Homo sapiens: one gene and its partner. The main gene of each other region encodes a partner of the protein of the gene in region 2 in a complex. Each region holds a gene or a part of one and is shown on either strand. Other genes may lie near its edges.

The links.
Region 1: the proteins of LRRC7 (region 2) and CAMK2A are in contact, whole or in part, in a crystal structure (PDB 6X5G), measured with the Homo sapiens proteins. Residues at the interface, in NP_001357714.1 of Homo sapiens: His843, Gly844, Arg845, Arg846, Pro847, Leu848, Ile849, Arg850, Gln851, Asp852, Arg853, Ile854, Val855; in NP_001350919.1 of Homo sapiens: Glu96, Phe98, Glu99, Ile101, Val102, Lys137, Glu139, Leu159, Phe173, Ala174, Gly175, Thr176, Pro177, Gly178, Tyr179, Leu180, Ile205, Gly209, Tyr210, Pro211, Pro212, Phe213, Trp214, Tyr222, Gln224, Pro233, Glu236.

Annotation. Positions count from the first base shown.
Region 1 is NC_000005.10:150,243,052-150,253,317, forward strand, and holds part of CAMK2A (calcium/calmodulin-dependent protein kinase type II subunit alpha), read right to left. Parts: intron 9,015-10,266; coding exon 8,931-9,014; intron 8,794-8,930; coding exon 8,699-8,793; intron 7,760-8,698; coding exon 7,637-7,759; intron 7,259-7,636; coding exon 7,175-7,258; intron 4,764-7,174; coding exon 4,721-4,763; intron 2,151-4,720; coding exon 2,110-2,150; intron 1-2,109. UniProt on the Homo sapiens protein: Calcium/calmodulin-dependent protein kinase that functions autonomously after Ca(2+)/calmodulin-binding and autophosphorylation, and is involved in various processes, such as synaptic plasticity, neurotransmitter release and long-term potentiation.
Region 2 is NC_000001.11:69,569,637-69,579,902, reverse strand, and holds part of LRRC7 (leucine-rich repeat-containing protein 7), read right to left. Parts: intron 1-10,266.

The DNA of each region.
Region 1 (10,266 bases), on a different chromosome or scaffold from region 2:
CCAGCAGAGCCCCACCATGCTGTGAGCTGTCCTTGCCATCTGGCAGCTTCTGCCTCCTGGCCTTGCCCTAAAAGAGCTAATAAGCATTTCTTCCCAAGAACCAGCCTGATGGAGGCCTCTCCTGACCCCTTGCCCAGCCTCTACCAGGGCTACATCCAAGAGCCAAGCAGACCAGGGCAGCTTCTCTCTCTACTTCCTTCTCCTCTAGTTACCTGGGCCACAACCCACCGGTGTCTCTGGTCTCTATCCCCACATCCCCCAAATCGGAACCAGGAAGTCTGCTTTCCCCAGGGCGCCCAGCACCCCTAGCTCAGCGTCTCCACACAGGGGTCAGAGAGGGCCCCAGCTACTCCAAAGCTGGCAGCTCCCACATTGCACATCCCTCTATTACCCCTACACATAGAGGGATGGCGGGTTGGCTCAGGGTTAACCCAAAACAGCAGGCAAGCCAAAATTCAATGCCCGATTCCATTACAGGATTTGGAATGAGTGCCTGTTAACTTTATAAATTAAGTTGGCTTTAGATCTGTGGTTTTCAAATATTCTTGAGAAAACTTGGTTTTCAAGAGAAATTTTACCCAAAAGTCTAATACATAAAATAGAGGAAAGATAATAGTGCCTAGCATCTCATGAGTGTGTATTACATACCAGCACCTTGCTAAGCTCTCAGGGCGCATTGTATTAGTTAATCCTCACCAATAGGCTTAGGAGGTGGAGATCTCTTTTAACCTCATTGCATGAATGAAGAAGCGCAGGCTCAGGGAATATAAATACCCAGCCGAGGTCCAGCTGCAGGCAAGCCCAAGGGCTCTCTTCACCATGATCATGCTCTGGTTGAAGTGGGTATGAGAAGCCCAGAACCATTTAACCTGGCATCCCCCTTCCACATCCCACAGCACCCCATCCGCTGCCAGAGGTGCCTCCCCAGTCCAGTACCTTTGGGATCTAAAGAGTTCAATTTGAAAACCACTGTCTTGGACTAATAACCAAATAATTATGTATTCCTCTAGCACCCAAGATGAGAAGGGAGAATGATTAGATAGGATTTTATTGCTTTTTTTGTTTGTTTTTAAAGCTGCAATCTTGGAAATGATCATCAAATCCACACCCCACTCGTTGTACTTAGGGGAAAATTCAAGCTGGGAGGAGAAGGCTAAGTACAGAGGGGAGACCCAATCCTGGCCTTGGACATCTAGCCCAGACTCCCTCGCATGCAACCTTGACAGACCAAAACCAGCGGCCAGAGACCATAAATGCCTCCTTAGACAAAGCCATCAAGCCACCAGCACATCTGGCTGTATTCATACAGCATCCCACACCTTCCAATGTCCTGGGCACATCCCAGCCCTGGGGCCCTCGCCAGGCAGGGCTCTGAGCCCAGAAAAAGGCAGGGTCTCAAGAGAGGATAAGATCGAGTGGCAGAGGAGGAGGGAACTGCAGAGAGCAGGGGACCAGGCCCCAGAGAGCAGAGGGAGAAGAGAGAAGAGACGGGAAGGAGGACCGCAGGATGTGGAGGGACCACAGGGTAACTCGGGCTCTAGGGGTGGGACAGGGCAGGCCCTTGGAGCCGGGAGGGGATTTTGGAACTGAACCAGCACCAGCAAGCCTTGCCGGGAGGGGGCACCTTGGAACCCAAAGCCAAGAGGAATGGCTGTCCATCCTCCACGAGCTTTCTGGGTGGAACTAAGGTGTACAGCGGGGCAGGGGCCCGATCCAGCCCACACATAGGCAGGACGGAGGTCACCCCTCATGACCATTTCTGTCCTCTCCTTGCACCCTCTCTTGCACACCAGCTCTCCAGCCTCGGAGAACCACAGAAATCTCCTTCTGACCTGCCCCTTTCCTTGCGCCTGCCCCCACCCCAGCACACCTGTCACTTCCACCCTCCTCCAGTCCCCCCTCTCCCATCTGCCCCCCAACAGTCACGGCGCAACGGTGGGCACCAAAGCCTAGGTCGTGGGTCTGGAGACAGCCTGGCCACAAATGTGGCCCACGTCTGCCCAGGACACCATCAGCAAGGCCCGGGTCTTGCTCCAGGCCTGAAAGCCGGTCTCTGTTGGCAGAAACGCTGCCAGAGCCAAGCCCTGCCAGGCTCCTGGAGGGGCTTACCTTCACACCATCGCTCTTCTTGTTTCCCCCACTCTTCCCTCCTGTGGAGGAGAAAAAGTAGAGGGTTAACAACGCCAGGCAGGGCACCAGGGCCCACAGGGCGAGGACGAGCAGCATCCACACGCAGCCGGAGGGCAGACTGCAGGGAGCAGAGCTGGCCCAGCGATCCTGGGGGAGGCCTCCTCCTCCTCCTCCTCCTCCTCCTCCTCCTCCTCCCTCCTTGGAGGCCCAGGGACTGCCTGGGTTCCCCGCCTTCTCAGCAATCTCAAGCGTAACCCTCTGGCTTCATGGGTTGAGGGAGGTGTCCAACATGTCCCAGGACTGTGGGCTGCTGTTTCAGCCCGGGGATTCCCTCTGAATCCCTGTCACCACCGTGCTGGCGGTGGCCAACCCGAGGTCTGGCTGCCTGGCCCCAGGCTGGACACGCCCTCCCCACCCTGGCCCTCTCTAATTTTAGCCCCATGCTGCTGCGGAGGTCATGTGTCAGCCCTGCCTACTCACTCCGGACAGCTGCAGGCTGCGTCTTGCCAGTGACAAGAAGCAGATGCCCCCACTGGGGCCCACCCTGCCAGAGCACCCATCCCCTGCCTCTCTCCTCAGGCCATATAGGCCTCCCCAACCTCAGACTCCAGAGCCCCATATTGGCACTGGCTATGGCCCGGGTGGCAGGGACAACCAGAGCAACAGCTCTTTGGGGGCTTCCCCTGCTGTCATTTCCCCTTACCTCCCTCCTCACCTCCTGGCCAGAGCCCTGGAAGTGGGCATCAGCCAGGAAATGGCCTGAATGTCCAGCCCTGCCCACAGGCATCCGGCTGCTTCAGACTTAAGCAAATACCTTAAATGAAACAAGGTATCTGTGAAGTACTTAGCAAAGCACCTGACCCATAAGCCGCACATGCTCAGGAAATGGTAGCCATGATAAGACTTCTCCTGGTGGCCTTGAGAGGGGGAGTTGGGAGGAGGGTCATATGAGCCACTGATGCCCCAGGGGCTCTGAGGCATGGGGCTCATGGCAGGTCACCTTCCCAGTCACCCCCACATTTCCACCTATGACCCCTTCGAGGCTCTCATTCCAAGTTCCCTACTTGCAAACCAAGGCAGGGGCCACCTCTGGATCCCGAAGCTGACAGGAATGGCTGTCCATTCACCACAGGCTTTGGAGGGTTGGACTAGGATGTGCAGTGGGGCAGGGGGAGTGCTTTCTCCTCGAGCCTCAAGGTAGACGCCCCTCTCAGCTCCAGCCTACTGTCACAGGATCGTGGGTCCAGTGAGGCCACAGCGTCTAATTTTCAAGAGACGACAGCAATCTGGGGTTTTCTATGAAATTTCCTAATTTTTAAGTGTTAGAAACTCATTCAAAAAAATTTTTAAAACACCCCTACCTCCACAAAGCATATCAAGAGATTCAATCCAGCTCACAGGCCGCCATTTTGTGAGCTCAGGACTAGAGTTCTTTAGGGTGCTTCAGTTGTTAAAAAAAGACTCTGACTATCTGGGTAGCTCATCTTTCAGTTTACGGAATGGCAGGATCCTTGTCCAGGGAGAGGGTGGGAAGGCAGTTTAACGAGGTAGGAAAAGCCCAGTCAGAAGTTCTAGTATCTGCCCACCTCTGGGTCTCACTCCTCCCAACTGGTTACATGGGCAGGTGGACCCACTCAATGCAGCCAGCTGCCCCCTTCTCAGAGCTGCCCTCTTGCTGTGGTGCTGGCCACAAATCTGCAGCAGCTTTCTCGGCTGGCCCCAGCCCCAGTCAGAGGGCCCCTCGGGTGAGCTTTGCTCTATCTGCTATCTATATCTCCTCTACTGCCTGCCAGCGGCCTGCGCTCCCCAGAAGGAAGCCTCTGGAGGGCACTGGCCCCAGCCCTCTCTGATGTGCCAAGAGGAGCTTCTTGCTAAACCCTGACAATAATCCCTTCCCCTTCTCTCTGCAAAGCCACATGCCTCAGGTGATTGGGCACTCCCTGCCTTAACCAGCCCAGTTTGGCCAAGGGCCTGGGACGCTCCTGCCCTGGACTCACTGGTGACCCAATCCAGTTAAAGGCACTTGCCCTGGGTTTGGTCAAACCTGTGCTGAATGCAGGCTCTGCCTCTCTAGCCATGTGACCTGGGACAAGTCAGAGCTCACCTTCCTGAGCTTCTGCTTCCTCATCCCAGAAATAGGGATGGCAGCACCCCCATCATCCCCTCTGCTGCCTTGTCATGTAGGCCACCTGAGTGGAAGCACGGGACTGCTTAGCACAGGGCTCCAATCATGGTGGGCAATATTGTTACTCCCTGGACCTGGCTCCACCCCATCTAGAACTCAATCCCCTGCAATCAGAAGCCTTCCCCTCTAGGCGGCCCAGCCTGAGAACCCCAGCACTGCTGTAGGAGTGGGCAGCCAGACTAAATCTGTAACCAGTCCTGGTGGGCCCTGGGCTTGCTGACTTTTGACCTCTCTTCACTTCTGGGTACAGGCCGTGGCAGGTGAGCTAAGCCCTTAGTCACAGAGTCCTCTACAACTCCCTCTCCCCAGGCCCAGTGGCCTGGGGGCACTCCAATATCTGACAGGACGGTGCCCCCAACGAACTGGTGCAGGGCTTACTGGGGACCCTGAGGTCCTGCCACCTACCGGAGAAGTTCCTGGTGGCCAGCATCGTGGTGAGAATGGCTCCCTGCAAGACATAAGAAGAGGGCAGTGGGAGAGGAGGCCGGAGTGAAGGGACCCAGGAGGGACAGAGAGACGGGAGGGCCACGGGGAAGGAGAGGCAGGTGCTGCATTCAGAGAAGAAGCCAAAGCCTCTGCCCTGCCCCTCCATTTGTCCCAACCCCAACCCCAGCCCAGAGCCCATCCCTCGCCCCCTGGAGAAGTCGGGGTGAGCTAGGCTTTAGCCAGTACAGCTCCTGGGACAAGGCCGTCCTAGGGGCAGATATTAATGGGCCCCTTGGCCCGCCCAAGCTGAAGAGCTTGAGGGACACCTACCAGCAGAGGCTCCTGAAGATGATGGACTTTTCTTGCTTGGGCAACAACAGCAGACCTCGTGTCCCCCAACCCCTCCACCTCTTAGCCCTCTGCCCCGTGCTGAGAGCATCTTGCTCCAGGACTAGCTCATCCCTCCATGGCCCCTGGGCTCAGAGAATCCCAGGAGGATTTTCTCTTTTTTTTTTTTATTTCCAAGTTTTTTATTTTATATATATATATATATTATATAATACTTTAAGTTCTAGGGTACATGTGCACAACGTGCAGGTTTGTTACATATGTATACATGTGCCACGTTGGTGTGCTGCACCCATTAACTCGTCATTTACATTAGGTATATCTCCTAATGCTATCCCTCCCCCCTCCCCCCACCCCACAACAGGCCCCGGTGTGTGATGTTCCCCTTCCTGTGTCCAAGTGTTCTCATTGTTCAATTCCCATCCATGAGTGAGAACATGCGCTGTTTGTTTTTTTGTCCTTGCGATAGTTTGCTGAGAATGATGGTTTCCAGCTTCATCCATGTCCCTACAAAGGACAGGAACTCATCATTTTTTATGGCTGCATAGTATTCCACGGTGTATATGTGCCACATTTTCTTAATCCAGTCGATCATTGTTGGACATTTGGGTTGGTTCCAAGTCTTTGCTATTGTGAGTAGTGCCGCAATAAATATATGTGTGCATGTGTCTTTATAGCACCATGATTTATAATCTTTTGAATCCCAGGAGGATTCTCAATGTAGAGAAAGCCTCCTCCATCAACAAGCAGGCTGGGGGCTAATGGCCCCTTTTGTTCCAGAGCCATCTGATTCAGACCTGACTTGACACTGTCTGAATCCCACTGCTTATGATGTTAAGAATCCCTGATTCTGATATTTTGAGACTTCCTCTGTGACACAGCTTCCACTGCAGGATGGGGATGGGACTCAGTTCTCCTGGCATCATGCTGGCCACCACCCCTTGGTCTGTGTCCCCATCCTAAGCCTCCACTCCAGGCCTGGGAGCAGCAGATAAGGAGGTTCCACAAGAGCTGGGGCCTCCGCCTCTTCCCTCATCATCCCCAGCGTGCTGACGGCTCCTCTGTTCCACTGGCCAGGGGCCCCTCAGTGCCTGGCAAAGGCCAGGCCAGGAGCTGTCACCACCCTGAGAGCACACAGAACCTGCAAGAGTGTGAAGCTCTGGGACCACCTGGGTGCCACTGAGCTTCCTCAGGGCCACAATCACTGTCTGAGTGCCTCAGCCATTCCTCCACAGTACTGGGCAGCTGGGGCGCCTCCCTGACCAGGGTCTCACGTTCAGTCATGTCTCACCCCCAAAAGCTCTCCCCAGCCACTCTGAACCACTTGTGGTGCCCCTAAGGGGTCAGGCGCACTTCCAAACTTCTGCACAGGCTGCTTCCTCTGTCTGGAACACGTTCCCATTCTTTTTTTTGTTTTTTTTTTTTTGAGACAGAGTCTCTCTCTGTTACTCAGGCTGGAGTGCAATGGCACGATCTCACTCACTGCAACCTCCGCCTCCCAGGTTCAAGCAATTTTCCTGCCTCAGCCTCCTGAGTAGCTGGGATTACAGGTATGTGCCACCATGCCTGGCTAATTTTTGTATTTTTGGTAGAGACAGGGTTTCACCTCATTGGCCAGGCTGGTCTTGAACTTCTGACCTCAGGTGATCTGCCCACCTCAGCCTCCCAAAGTGTTGGGATTACAGGCATGAGTCACTGCGCCCGGCCACACTTTCCCATTCTGACTCTAACTTGGCTAATACCTGCTTATCCTCCAAGGTCTCAGCTTAAACGCCCCTGGCTCCAGACCCAGAATACCATTGTCCTGCTGCATTCTGCCACCATCTTGAGGCTTTCCCAGGCATGGCACTCACCACTGCCCCATAACGCCCCAGGAACTTGTCTGTCCTCTCCACTAGAGCAAGGGCTCAGTCATTCACCGCTCACTCCCCAAGCCCAACCTGCTGTCCAGTATGCAGTAGGTGTTCAATAAATGCTTATTGAATCAATGAAGGAAAGAATTAGTGAGCGAGTCTCCTGGCCTCTGTGGAGACCCAGGCAGAGCTAGTCCCATGGCCAGGACTGTGGAGGGTGAGGACCTGTTACCTTCAGTTTCCTCCTGGCATTGAACTTCTTCAGGCAGTCCACGGTCTCCTGTCTGTGCATGCAGGATGCCACGGTGGAGCGGTGCTGGAGGAAGTAGGGGAGAGGGCTGTGAGTGGAAGGCAGGCTGGAAGACAGGCCCACCCAAGGGTACCCTTCAGCAGGGCATCTTAATGGAGGTGTGGTTGACATCTTGGGAAGAACGATTCATTGCTCTAGGAGATGCTTCAGGGTGTTTAGCATCCTGGCACCAGACATTCAATGCCAGTAGCACCATCAGTTGTATGCCAACCCAGAACACTCACTCCTCGTTTCCACATTACCCCTGAGAACCACAGCAGGGGCAGTCTCTTGGATTAAGCCCTCTTGGCCCCATGGGCCAGGGGAAGGGCCAGAACTCTGTGGGGGCCTGGATCATGAGGTCTGGAGGGGCTCCTGGGAGAAGTCCTGCTGAGGAAGGCTCACCGAGATCCAGGGGTGCTTAAGGGCTTCGGCAGCTGTGATGCGTTTGGATGGGTTAATGGTCAGCATCTTATTGATCAGATCCTTGGCTTCCGGGGTGACAGTGTCCCATTCCGGCGATGGGAACTGGAAGGGGCAGAGAGGCCAGGTTTGCCCAGCCTGCCCCAGGCCACCCCTGCGATCCCCCAGCCCCTGACTGGCAGGGGAGCAGGCAGGGGTCCTACTGCCCATCCACTCGGACATCCACACCAGGAGGAGTTGGGGCTCCTCACTGCAGGGGAGGGCCCTAGCCCCATACAAATCAGAACACGGCAGAGGGAAAGGAGGCCTCCCTCCAACCATCTTTCTGAGACTGTGCCTTATTTGCAGAGCAGCCGGTCAGTGGCTTTAGCCCAGACTTCAGAATCAAAAGGCCTGGATTCAAGTCCTGGCTCTGCCTCCTGGGCTGTGTAACCTGGGTAAGTCACATGACCTCTTGAGCTATCTCTAGAGATGTTGTGAGAATTAAATACAATATAAAACATACGGCACAGAGCTTAATAGCTATCTGCATAAAAGCAATATAGCTTGGTAGTTAGAAGCATGGATGGTAGAGCCAGACTGCCTGGTTCAAATCCCACCTCTACCATTTCTTAGCTGTGTGATCTAGGCAGTTACTTGACCTCTCTGTATGTCAGCTTCTCTATATGTAAAATGGGAATAATAACAGCACCTATATCATAGATTGGTGTGAGGATTAAATGTAATAATATGTGTAAAACATTCAGAGAGTGCTATAGAATTGTTAGCTATTATTATTTGTATATATGAGAGAGAAACAGAGAAACCCTGGCTTGGGAGGCGCCTCTCCCCTACTCCTCACTCCATTTTGGTGCTGCTTCTTGCCTTCTGGGGCAAGATAAATCTCCAATCATTAGGCACAGCATGGTAACCACCTGGCCCTGGTCAGTCTTCATGCTCCCCTGGGGTTCACCCCTGTGCCAGAACTAGAGAGTGGCTTGGCGCTGGCTTTCACTGGAAGGGCACCAGAGGATGATGGGAGCTGAAGAGAGGAGCGACACTCACATCATAGGCGCCGGCTTTGATCTGCTGGTACAGGCGGTGCTGGTCCTCATCCCAGAACGGGGGGTACCCAACCAGCAGGATGTACAGGATGACCCCTGGAAAGAGGACCAGAGAACCTTCAACCCCCTGTGGGGAGGAGACATGGGGGGAGGGGAGTGATGGGAAAGGAGAGAGGGGGCCCCAGAGGCCGGGGTGCAGCCAGGGGCACAAAAGGGCCTTAGGATGAACTCACCACAAGCCCACAGGTCCACAGGCTTCCCGTACGGGTCCTTCCGCAGCACTTCTGGGGAGAGATATCCAGGAGTCCCTGCAAACCCTGCTCCCAGACACACAGACAGGCAGACACATACACAGAGGTTGTCTCGTAAGTAACCTGGAGCAAGATCCTGCTGGAAGAGGGGATGAGGATTGCTCTGGAGCTGAGGAAAACAGCCCCTGCCCCTCAGGTGCACTTGGGCTTGTATTGTGCAACCCCAGTCGGCCCAAGACATAAGCCTGATGAGCCAGCAAAGCCTCTAGATCAGATCGACAACTACCTAGCACACCTGTCACCACTTCCCACTTCAGAGCCAGTGGTAATCAGCCACAGAACTCCTTCCTACTGGGTCCTGACTCAGGATCATAAGCTTCTCAGCACCACTCTTCCAGGAGCCACTAGTGATCCATTGCTGGTGGCTTCAAGATGAAATGCACCTGCCATGTCAGCCCCAGGCTGAGAGCTAAGCCCACTCTGCACCCCCTTGTTGGAGTTGGTCATGGGATGTCGGGAGGCCTGTCCTAACTGACTTTGCCCCTTGGGTACGTCTCTTTATCTTCTAGTCCTTGTTTCCTCATCTGTCAAATGAAGGATTAGGGATTCCTATCTTAAGTGCCTCCCAGGGTTGTTGAGCCGGTCAGTTCAAATAATGGACACCTGAGGTATTCTAACAAGCACTTTTAAGAACACTTACAAGTTACCGAGTGTGTATGCTAAGCATTGGGCTGAGCACTTCATATGCCTGGTCACATTTAATTCTGACACCACTCCTGAGGGACACACAATTATTATTCCCATTTTACAGATGAGGAACGAAGGCACAGAGAGGTGAAGTGACTTAGCCAAAGTCACATACCTCATAAGTAGCAGAGTCGGGATTTGAACCCAGAACTCTGGTTCTTAACCATGGCTCAATATTGCCCACTAAAAAGTACTCCCAGGTAGCTTAAAGAGACCCAGTTATACCAAAATCACAAAGCAGGCTGGATCATCTGAGTTAAGTCCTGGTCTATCCCTTTTAAACTTTCTTGACCTTCTGCAAGTTTTCTGCCAGTTTTTTCCTCATCTATAAAATCAGGATAATAATCTCAAGCACCTAGACTATTAGGGCAGCTCTGTGGAAACTTCCCTAAGGCCTTCAACCACAGGGAGCCCTTTGGGGAGGAGAGATGGCGGAGGGGAGTGACAGGAAAGGAGAGAGGGGGCCCCAGGGAGCCCTGTGGAAGGCCGTAGGGTCCCATGCCTGAACCCTGGGGACACAGATAGGTGCTGCCCACTGGCTCAGAGGCTGGGTGGGACAGGGCCTCTGCTC
Region 2 (10,266 bases):
CAACACTTTGGGAGGCGAAGGCAGGAGGACTGCTTCAGCCCAGGAGTTTGAGACCAGCATGGGCAACATGGGAAGATGCTGGCTCTACCAAAAAAAAAAAAAAAAAAAGCTTCTATTCAAAAGAGACACTCCTTACCTTAGCAAGTCATATGGCTATGGCTGGGAAGCACAATCCTATGATGTTCTCAGAAAGGAGGAGAAGAAGGAATTGAGGGAAACTGTGCTAATGGCTACAAGAGTCATTTAGAGGCATTCAGAAGAATAAGTGGAACGATTCATTCATTGAAACAGTCATTCACACAACATGCATCTTTTTCTGCACCAGGCTGTGAGCTAGTCTGCTTGGGATAAAATATCCAGTGAGTCTCCACATATGTACTGGTTTGGGAAACAGTCATTTAAATAATTATTTAAACAATGATGCTGGGAATGAATGAATGGTCCATATATTGAAGTATCCTAAAAATACCAATATAAAGTGACCTTTGTGTGATCACACAAATCACACAGTTTAAAGGTTTAACCTTTTTTATTTTTTAAAAAAAGATATGTGGAGAATGTAACCAAGGGATTCTGAAGTTTCATTAAACTATATTCATATTCAAATTAACGGTGATCTTTACTCAGTGTGAGGGTAAATTTCTAACTTGACTCACATCCAGAAAAAGAGAATACAAAACCCAAGTAAACATTTTAGGGTTTTTTTGTTACCTCCCTTTTTAATATAAATACTAGAAGCTATCACATTACATTTTATTATGTTGATTCATTAAATTACAACTCTTGACACCCAATAAAGTTTCTATCTTCTGAACTAAAATATGCTATTGTTTCCATTGTTAAGCAATAATATTAAAACCATTAAGTGGCATTTAAAACAAGGAAGTATTCATCCATATTACCAGGACTAAAATACAACTTTTTTTTCCATGCATTTCTTTTTATTTTATTTTATTTTATTATTATTATACTTTAAGTTTTAGGGTACATGTGCACAATGTGCAGGTTACATATGTATACATGTGCCATGCTGGTGTGCTGCACCCATTAACTCGTCATTTAGCATTAGGTATATCTCCTAATGCTATCCCTCCCCCCTCCCCCCACCCCACAACAGTCCCCAGAGTGTGATGTTCCCCTTCCTGTGTCCATGTGTTCTCATTGTTCAATTCACACCTATGACTGAGAATATGTGGTGTTTGGTTTTTTGTTCTTGTGATAGTTTACTGAGAATGATGATTTCCAATTTCATCCATGTCCCTACAAAGGACATGAACTCATTATTTTTTATGGCCGCATAGTATTCCATGGTGTATATGTGCCACATTTTCTTAATCCAGTCTATCATTGTTGGACATTTGGGTTGGTTCCAAGTCTTTGCTATTGTGAATAGTGCCGCAATAAACATACGTGTGCATGTGTCTTTATAGCAGCATGATTTATAGTCCTTTGGGTATATACCCAGTAATGGGATGGCTGGGTCAAATGGTATTTCTAGTTCTAGATCCCTGAGGAATCGCCACACTGACTTCCACAAGGGTTGAACTAGTTTACAGTCCCACCAACAGTGTAAAAGTGTTCCTATTTCTCCACATCCTCTCCAGCACCTGTTGATTCCTGACTTTTTAATGATTGCCATTCTAACTGGTGTGAGATGGTATCTCATTGTGGTTTTGATTTGCATTTCTCTGATGGCCAGTGATGGTGAGCATTTTTTCACGTGTTTTTTGGCTGCATAAAGGTCTTCTTTTGAGAAGTGTCTGTTCATGTCCTTCGCCCCCTTTTTGATGGGGTTGTTTGCTTTTTTCTTGTGAATTTGTTTGAGTTCATTGTAGATTCTGGATATTAGCCCTTTGTCAGATGAGTAGGTTGTGAAAATTTTCTCCCATTTTGTAGGGTAGGAAGAATCAATATCATGAAAATGGCCATAATGCCCAAGGTAATTTATAGATTCAATGCTATCCCCATCAAGCTACCAATGACTTTCTTCAAAGAATTGGAAAAAACTACTTTAAAGTTCATATGGAACCAAAAAAGAGCCCGCATCGCCAAGGCAATCCTAAGCCAAAAGAAGAAAGCTGGAGGCATCACGCTACCTGACTTCAAACTATACTACAAGGCTACAGTAACCAAAACAGCATGGCATTGGTACCAAAACAGAGATATAGATCAATGGAACAGAACAGAGCCCTCAGAAATAACACTGCATATCTACAACTATCTGATCTTTGACAAACCTGAGAAAAACAAGCAATGGGGAAAGGATTCCCTATTTAATAAATGGTGCTGGGAAAACTGGCTAGCCATATGTAGAAAGCTGAAACTGGATCCCTTCCTTACACCTTATACAAAAATTAATTCCAGATGGATTAAAGACTTAAACGTTAGACCTACAACCATAAAAACCCTAGAAGAAAACCTAGGCAATACCATTCAGGACATAGGCATGGGCAAGGACTTGCTGTCTAAAACACCAAAAGCAATGGCAACAAAAGCCAAAATTGACAAATGGGATCTAATTAAACTAAAGAGCTTCTGCACAGCAAAAGAAACTACCATCAGATTTTCATGCATTTCTATCTATTTTTCACACATGATTATACAAAGAAATTCTACTAGGGAAGAGGGGGAAGGAGATTAACAACATATTCCTTTATATAAATTATGGGTAAGTTTACCTATGATTTTTATATGGAACTTAAACATGCATAACAGTTCTAGTAGTTTCTTCTTGTACCAAAGTACAAAAGCACATCATCTTTGTATCCAGTCCCCTGTGTTCACGTCCCACATTGATGTCTACTGTGTTTGAGTTTCAGTGGCTTGCTTTTTGTCTGCAGGAAGCAAATCTTAGATATGACGAGACGAGGCAGAAAAAGCGAGTAAACAAACAAAAAACGTCCATCCTCCTTATATTACGTGTGTAAATAACCGCTCATTAAATAAAATTAGATAGTGCAAAAGATAAAACAGGTATTATTTTGGAATAATTCAAACCCTGGACTGGGAGAGGTTGACATCTCGTATTACTGTTAACACCTAGACTTAGGACATTCAGATTTTGTCATGTAAAATGGTGTGTGGGATTACATTCACAGATGCAGAAATATGTTCTGTTCCATCACACCCACGAGCCTCTGAACAGTACACTGAAAGCTGGCATGAATAAGAACCATTTTACAAATGAAAAGCATAGCTAATGTGCTGATATGTGATGCATTAATTTAGTCATCATGGTGTTTCTTCAATTTAAAACATTATTTCCTTAATAAGGAGTTATGTCTTTTAAAAAGGGTTATTAGATGGGACTGTGTATGTATGTAGATATCTTGTTTAATCAGATATTCTTTGTAAATATTTCTACATTTCATTGTTTACAACCCAAATACATATTTTAAGAGCTTTAATCTCATAATTTCAAAAATGCTTTATAATCATTGCTAATATGGTTTGCTGGTGGGTTATAAAACATCTTGCCTTAAATTTACCTGCAATCAAAGCTTCTAGATATGGTGGACTAAGAATTTTAGCATTAGAAAAAATATAAATGAAACGTTTATTTCAAATTTGTCTTGTAACAGAAGAACTAAGTCATAACAGATGTTTAACCAGATATTTAGAAGAAGGAAGGATCTTACTATTTAAAGGACCTTCCAAAGTAACTTTTTTTTTTTTCAGAGTGTCACTCTGTCACCCAGCCTGGAGTACAGTAGTGTGATCTCAACTCACTGCAACCTCTGCCTCCTAAGCTAAAGCAATCTTCCCACCTCAGCCTCCTGAGTAGGTGGGACTACAGGTGAGCACCACCACTCTTGGCTACTTAAAAAAAAAAAAGTAGATACAACATCTCACTATATTGCCCAAGTTGGTCTCACACTCCTGAACTCAAACAATCACCCCACCTCAACCTCCCAAAGTGCTGGATTACAGTCACCCAGCCCAAAATGTAACTTAATAATGCAAAAAACTTCTCAGAAATGAGTCTGTTTTACAAATTCCAACTGTATTGTATTTTATTTTCCTGATTAGAATGGTTTCCTAATTCATATTTGAAGTAATAGTTTATAGAAAGCCCTAACAGCACTTAAAGTCCTCCTTGTTTTTTGGTGAGAAAACTTATTGGTTGACCCCTAATAAAATTAGCAAATTTAGAAGATAATTTATTTATTTAAAATGAATTGAACATTTCTTCATCATCCAACATTCATTTAGCTGGCATTATCCTAAAAAGATCAATGATTTAAAAAGAACATTTTAATTTTAATGTTTTAAGAAAGGATATAGTATCCAAATTTAGAGTGCTTCAATATTAGTGAAAATTAATTCCACATTTCTTAAATAAAGATATTTTAAAAATAGAATACTTAACAGATGTTAAATTTATAGCATAGGAGTCTGCCTAGACAGTCAAGTCAAAGTGGAGGATAAGGCAATTGTCCAAAATGCTTAAGCCAAATAAAAACTCAGGGCATAATTAAGACCAAAAATTAAACTCAGATTGAAATTCAGGCCAAAAATTCAATGAAAAAGAAATGCTTTTTGGATAGTGTCATCAAATTGGCTAGCTATATTAATTGGATCTATTGAATTAAGATTCCTTTCTCTCTTCTACTTTGCTCGGGTGTAAGAGACCCCAGTAGTTCCAAGGGTGTGGTTTTACTGGCAGACAGTGGGAGCTACAAGACCTGATTTTATTGCTATTTCTCCCATTAACAGTTGGATGACCCTCAGCAAGAAAGTATACTTAGTGGGGCCTCAGTTTCTTCTTTTTATAAAATGAGACCCTCTAAATTCCTTTCCAGCTCTGAAGTGTTATAAACTCCTGAAATAGTAAGATTACAGCTATGTTTGTGTGTGCATATGTGTTGTGAAATAGAACAATTACAGCTGTATGTGTATGTGTGTGGTGTGCCCAGTGTTCAACAATACGATATTAGCCTAAGGACTTCGCTAATATTTAACACTCACTCTAAGTTTAACTAGGTATTTGATTTAATTACAATAGCTTTTATAATTGTCTTAATAAATTAATCACACTTGATATAGGGAAGAAATTTTTTTCATGTCTTGAATTACACTGATCAGAAGAACACCGGATAGTAACTATTTAATTTTATGAGTGCTCAAAATATGTGGTCCAAGGTATATTTCCATCCAACATGATTCTGTAAGGTGCCTACTGGTGGTAAGAACTGCAATGATGAATACTTTTGATGCAGAACACTTAAGTAGTTAGTATTTATAAGTCTATTATTTGCAATTTTTAATTGTTTTAGTTACGCCATCTGTGACATATTAATTCTTTAAGTTCAGCTGGCATATTTTAGCTTTGTGTCCATTACCTACCTTTTTAGTGCAACAAATGTCTTCATAATACTTAGGCACTATCTTAATAAAGTTCATTTCTTACCTTTCCTTCCAGTATTGAATAAATTGACAATACAGCCAAGCATCTATAAAGTATTTTGCCACTACACCAGAGTATTCTTATCTTTTTCAATATAATAACATAAAATCCTGTAGTTTCTCAGTGACTTGTCTAGCAGCTCTTTTCCAATTGTTTGTCCCATATTTTCCTCTGTTAGCTCTGTTTTTCTGCTTTTCACAATACCATTTCTTTTTACCTATGAAAATTTCATGATGATAATGATAGTATTTATGCTATTGTTTTGTTTTAAGGTCAGCTACCTCTTTTCTATAATTGAAATCAATAGCTTCTCACTTGTTCTCATACTACTTTACCTCTTGAGTACTACAACATTTAAATATCTCCCTCATCTGACCCACCCCGCCACACACACAAGTATCCTAGAGTTCCACTGTTTTTAACTTAAGCCATTTGTTATGATACTACCTTGGGCATACCTATCCCCTTGTGTTAAGTATGCTTTCAACCTTACTGAACTTCGTGTACAGCAAAAATATCCTGGCACAACTGAAGAAACTGCATCTTTAAGAAGCCTATAAATGAATTATTTAAACAATGTAAACAACTGCTCCATTGTTAAAATATTTAAACACATCATGTCAATGTTAATAGACATTTCAATGCTTCATCCCTGACAACTACTATTTCTTTCACGTGTATTGAAGTAAAATAATATTTTGTATAGAGATTTTAAGTAGTTTATTAAGCAATGAACAATAAAATGAGAATGAGTGTACACAGGAAATCCTTTGGGTTATTAATGTATTTAATATTTTTCCCATGTCTTTGAATGACAAATGATAATGTTTCTATTATGAATAATAATTTAATTAGCATATATGATGCCTCCCCAGGGGCTTAATTATCAAGTGCATCATCATAGTTTCAAAATAGACATGACAGCTATTGACTCAAAATTTGCTTTATTGAAAACTTCCATAATGTACTTTTATATGACAGATTCTACTAGATTATTAAATTTCTGTCGTGAATGAATTATTCCAAGATAATAAGCAACAGTATTTTCTATACCTACATTAAATAATAGTCCAAAAATAATAGGGTGTATTATCACCAAATATACAGCTTTCAAAAGCTGGTTCAAAATCTTAATCTTTCTTTGTACACCAGGAAAAACTTCCATAATCTACAGATTTAAGTTATTTACCGAACTTCAATTTATGCCATGAAGAAGAGAGCACAGAATGGGGAAAAATGAACAGGGGCCAAATCTGGGCTTAAATCTTGGCCCATCACTTTCCACGTGGCATGGATTTGCCACTTGCTGTCTCTGAGTTTCAGTTTTCTAATCTTCAAAACAGTGAGAATCATGCTTCCTGTAGGATTATTTTGAAGTAAAGCACATGACTCATGGTAGGAGTTTAGCAAGCAGTAACTTATTATAATTATGATTACAGTTCAGGTACTATGGTAGGGGAGGCAGTATGACAAGTGATGTTCATGGATTTCTGAGCATATTCACTTTTTTTGAGATAGGAAATAGACATATTTGATTATTTAAATGGCATGCTTTTAATTACACCATTATATAATATACATAATTATACTATGCTATCACTAAACAGAACCACACACACACATACCCCACACACACATTACTACAGAAAAACTAATCTATACAAAAAAGTTTATACTTCACTCTTCTAAAATTTCCAAACCACATTTCATGTACCCCTTTGTCTTCTTTGGTATGTCCTGCAGTTATAAAATAGTAATTATTGCCACCTCTATTTTATCTTGTTAAAAGAGATGTATTACCTAAGATTGCATATTACTTCTAGACATACCTAAGTTTTTCTTACTCCTCTTTCACTATCTCAGGGTAATACTCTACAGTTGTTTCTATAAAAATGTAATTATTTCTAATGATTCAAACCTGAGTCACATAAATAACATGGTTAAAAGCCACATAAAGAAAAAATACTATTGATTTGTGGCAACCATCATTCAAACATTGTTGATTTATAGTGCCACTTTTCATTCTGAGTTTTTATTGACAATTCACAAATAAGTTTTTTAAAACATATGTGAAGCCTGTCTATGAATCTCCTTCTTTTGATTTAGGTATTTGATTTAATTACAATAGCTTATATAATTTGCTTTTTTGTTCCATCAGAATATAATATAATTTGCTTCATTATAGGTTTAAATTGCTATCTTTATATTAAAATTTTATTTCTTAATATTGAAACATTGAAAACTCTCTATTGAAGACTGATGTTGACTGCTAAATTAAAGAAATTCAGAGTGAAAACTTCAACATTCTCCAAAGAGCCTAGAGTCATCTCCAATGATATCTTTCCGTGGCAATAAAAATTAGTTAATGGTAACTCGGCTTGTCATAAACTAAAAGTCTGTTATATGTCACAGATTTGAATTAACATTCCCCTAAAGTCATCTTGCAAATTTACATGGCTCCAAAAAAGAATGTGGATGATACTCTGCAAAGTAGTCACTGTTATTAGAGACAACAAAATACACCAAATAATGTCTTTCAGTGGTAGTGTGGCTATTATAACTACTGTGTTCAACAGCATATATGTTTGAAATAATTTTTTCAAAAAACTATGAAATAATTTGTGTGAAGAAAGAAAATGTAATAAGAATCCATAAATAATTCAGATGATAATTCATCAATAATTGGTTACTCTTCGTGTAGTCGGTTAATCTGAGTAAGCAATGAAGTTATAATCTCGTGGAATGTGTGATTCCTTCTTATATTGGGGCCACAGTCATTCAGCAAATAAAATTTTAGTATCTCTAAGTGTAATTTTGATACATCAATTAAAACCTAACATCAATATTTTATCTGTTCTAAAAAGTGAATGTTTTAAAGTTGTGATTAACAAGACCAAGTTTTTGTATCAAATATTTAATCATGTACTATATGCTGAAATAAGAGAGATCTACAAGTACCACTGGAATGAACATCATATAGATAATATAGTTTATTACTTTCATAAGCAATAACATTCATATTAATTTATATCTTCGTGATTTTTTGAAATCCAAAGAAAACAAAAATGCAGATGCACAAAAACACTTTAAGCTTATGTTCTGTATTTTATAAGGGAATTAGAAAAATTAAAAGCTTAAAAAAGAAAGTGGAATAAGAATTTAATTGGGAAAATGTTAATGACAGCCTAAAGCTGCACTAAAATTCTGAATAAAACATGGCTACTGCAACTGGACCAGGTTTCTTTATGAAGTTGTTTCTAATTCTAAGCTGCATATGTGCAGACACAAGTGATGTAGAATTTATGTGTTGGCCATGGTAAGTACACATTTTTTCTTGGATAGTCAGTTTTTTCTTAAAAATGTATAAAGAACTCTCACCTCATAATAAGTCATGAAAATTGACTGTTTTTCTTATCATTACATATTAGTATGATGCAATGCAGCATAACACATAAATAAACCACCTTTTAAAAACTTTAGCCTACTAAGATGGATTATAAAACATTAAGTGAAAATGAAATAAGAAATCTCCAAGTCAGGTAACTCTAAATGTTGGGTCATAAACAAGTTATATCTCCACTAAATTAATAAATATTCTGACCTCAGGACATTTTCCACAGGCCTGAGACACCTCAGAAGTCCAAACTCAATCACTAAACACACCCCCAATATACTTTAGCCATATGACTCTTAAGGAAACATAAAATCATTCCTACATCCCTATTTGCTCATTTTTCCCCCTGTGCAATCAATGATTTCTAAAAAGTAAAGACTTCATTGCTTTACTGTCTTTTGTAAAAACAAACAAACAAAAAACAACAAACAAACAAAAAACACCTCGTGGTAGTTCCCTTAGAGTCCTTCCTGGAAGCCAATTCAAGGAAGCCTGGACGGAGGCGTGACACTTGGACTGGGAAGGTGGTGTAATCTGTTGCGAATCACAGCAGGTTCTGAAGTGCTGGAGAACCCACGTGTGCAGGGGCTGGAGAACTTTTCCACCGTCTCCCAGAGGAAATGCCTCATTTTAAAATAGGGGGCTGGCTGGAGCAAGGGGTGGGGGTGAAGGGTGGGCGGTAAAAAAAGGCAGAGGCGAAGCTTTCAAACCGTTCACGCATGTCTACCTGTGCTTATTTTCCCTCTATTTCGCCTCCGATCAACTTTATTATTATTATTATTATTATTTTCCTTCTATAGGAGGACTTAAGCAACCAGGATGCTGAACATCTCATAGGCTCAGGCTGGAACAAAGAAAATCGAGTTCCTAATACTGTATCTCACCCGTTGGAGGGATCACGTGTCCTGCTTTCGCTGGAATGCACTCTTCTCGCCCACGCTATAAAAATCTCTATTGTGCTTAGAAATTTCGCCTAGGTTAGAATATGCTCACAAAAAATTGCTTTTCATCCACCAGGAGAGCCACATTTCGACATATACAGATACAAATCTATTTACCTGCTGACCCAGTTACCACTGCAGGTAAATTCGATGTGTTGAAAGAGTATTGGGAAAGTAATTGAAAAGAGCAGGGGGAGGACCCCTGTGTCTTACCGATCCCCACCCCCATCGCTTTTTTTTTTTTTTTTTTTTTTGTAATTCCTTTTGAAGGAGAACTTCGAAAGGAACGTGGGAGTCGCAGATGGTTCCTTTCTGAAGCCGATTCCTGGGAGTTGTGAAAGTGACCCCGTCTCTTCTCTGCCTCGAGCTGTGCCCTCTCGCCCAACCCGCTCGCTTTATGACTTGATGGGGAAGAGACAGCCAGAGAAGAGCCGGAGTAGAGGGCGGAGGCGGGTCCTTTATTCAGCCCTGATGGCCGAGAAGTAGTGTAAGGAAGCAATCTTTCAGCCATCTCCGTTATTATG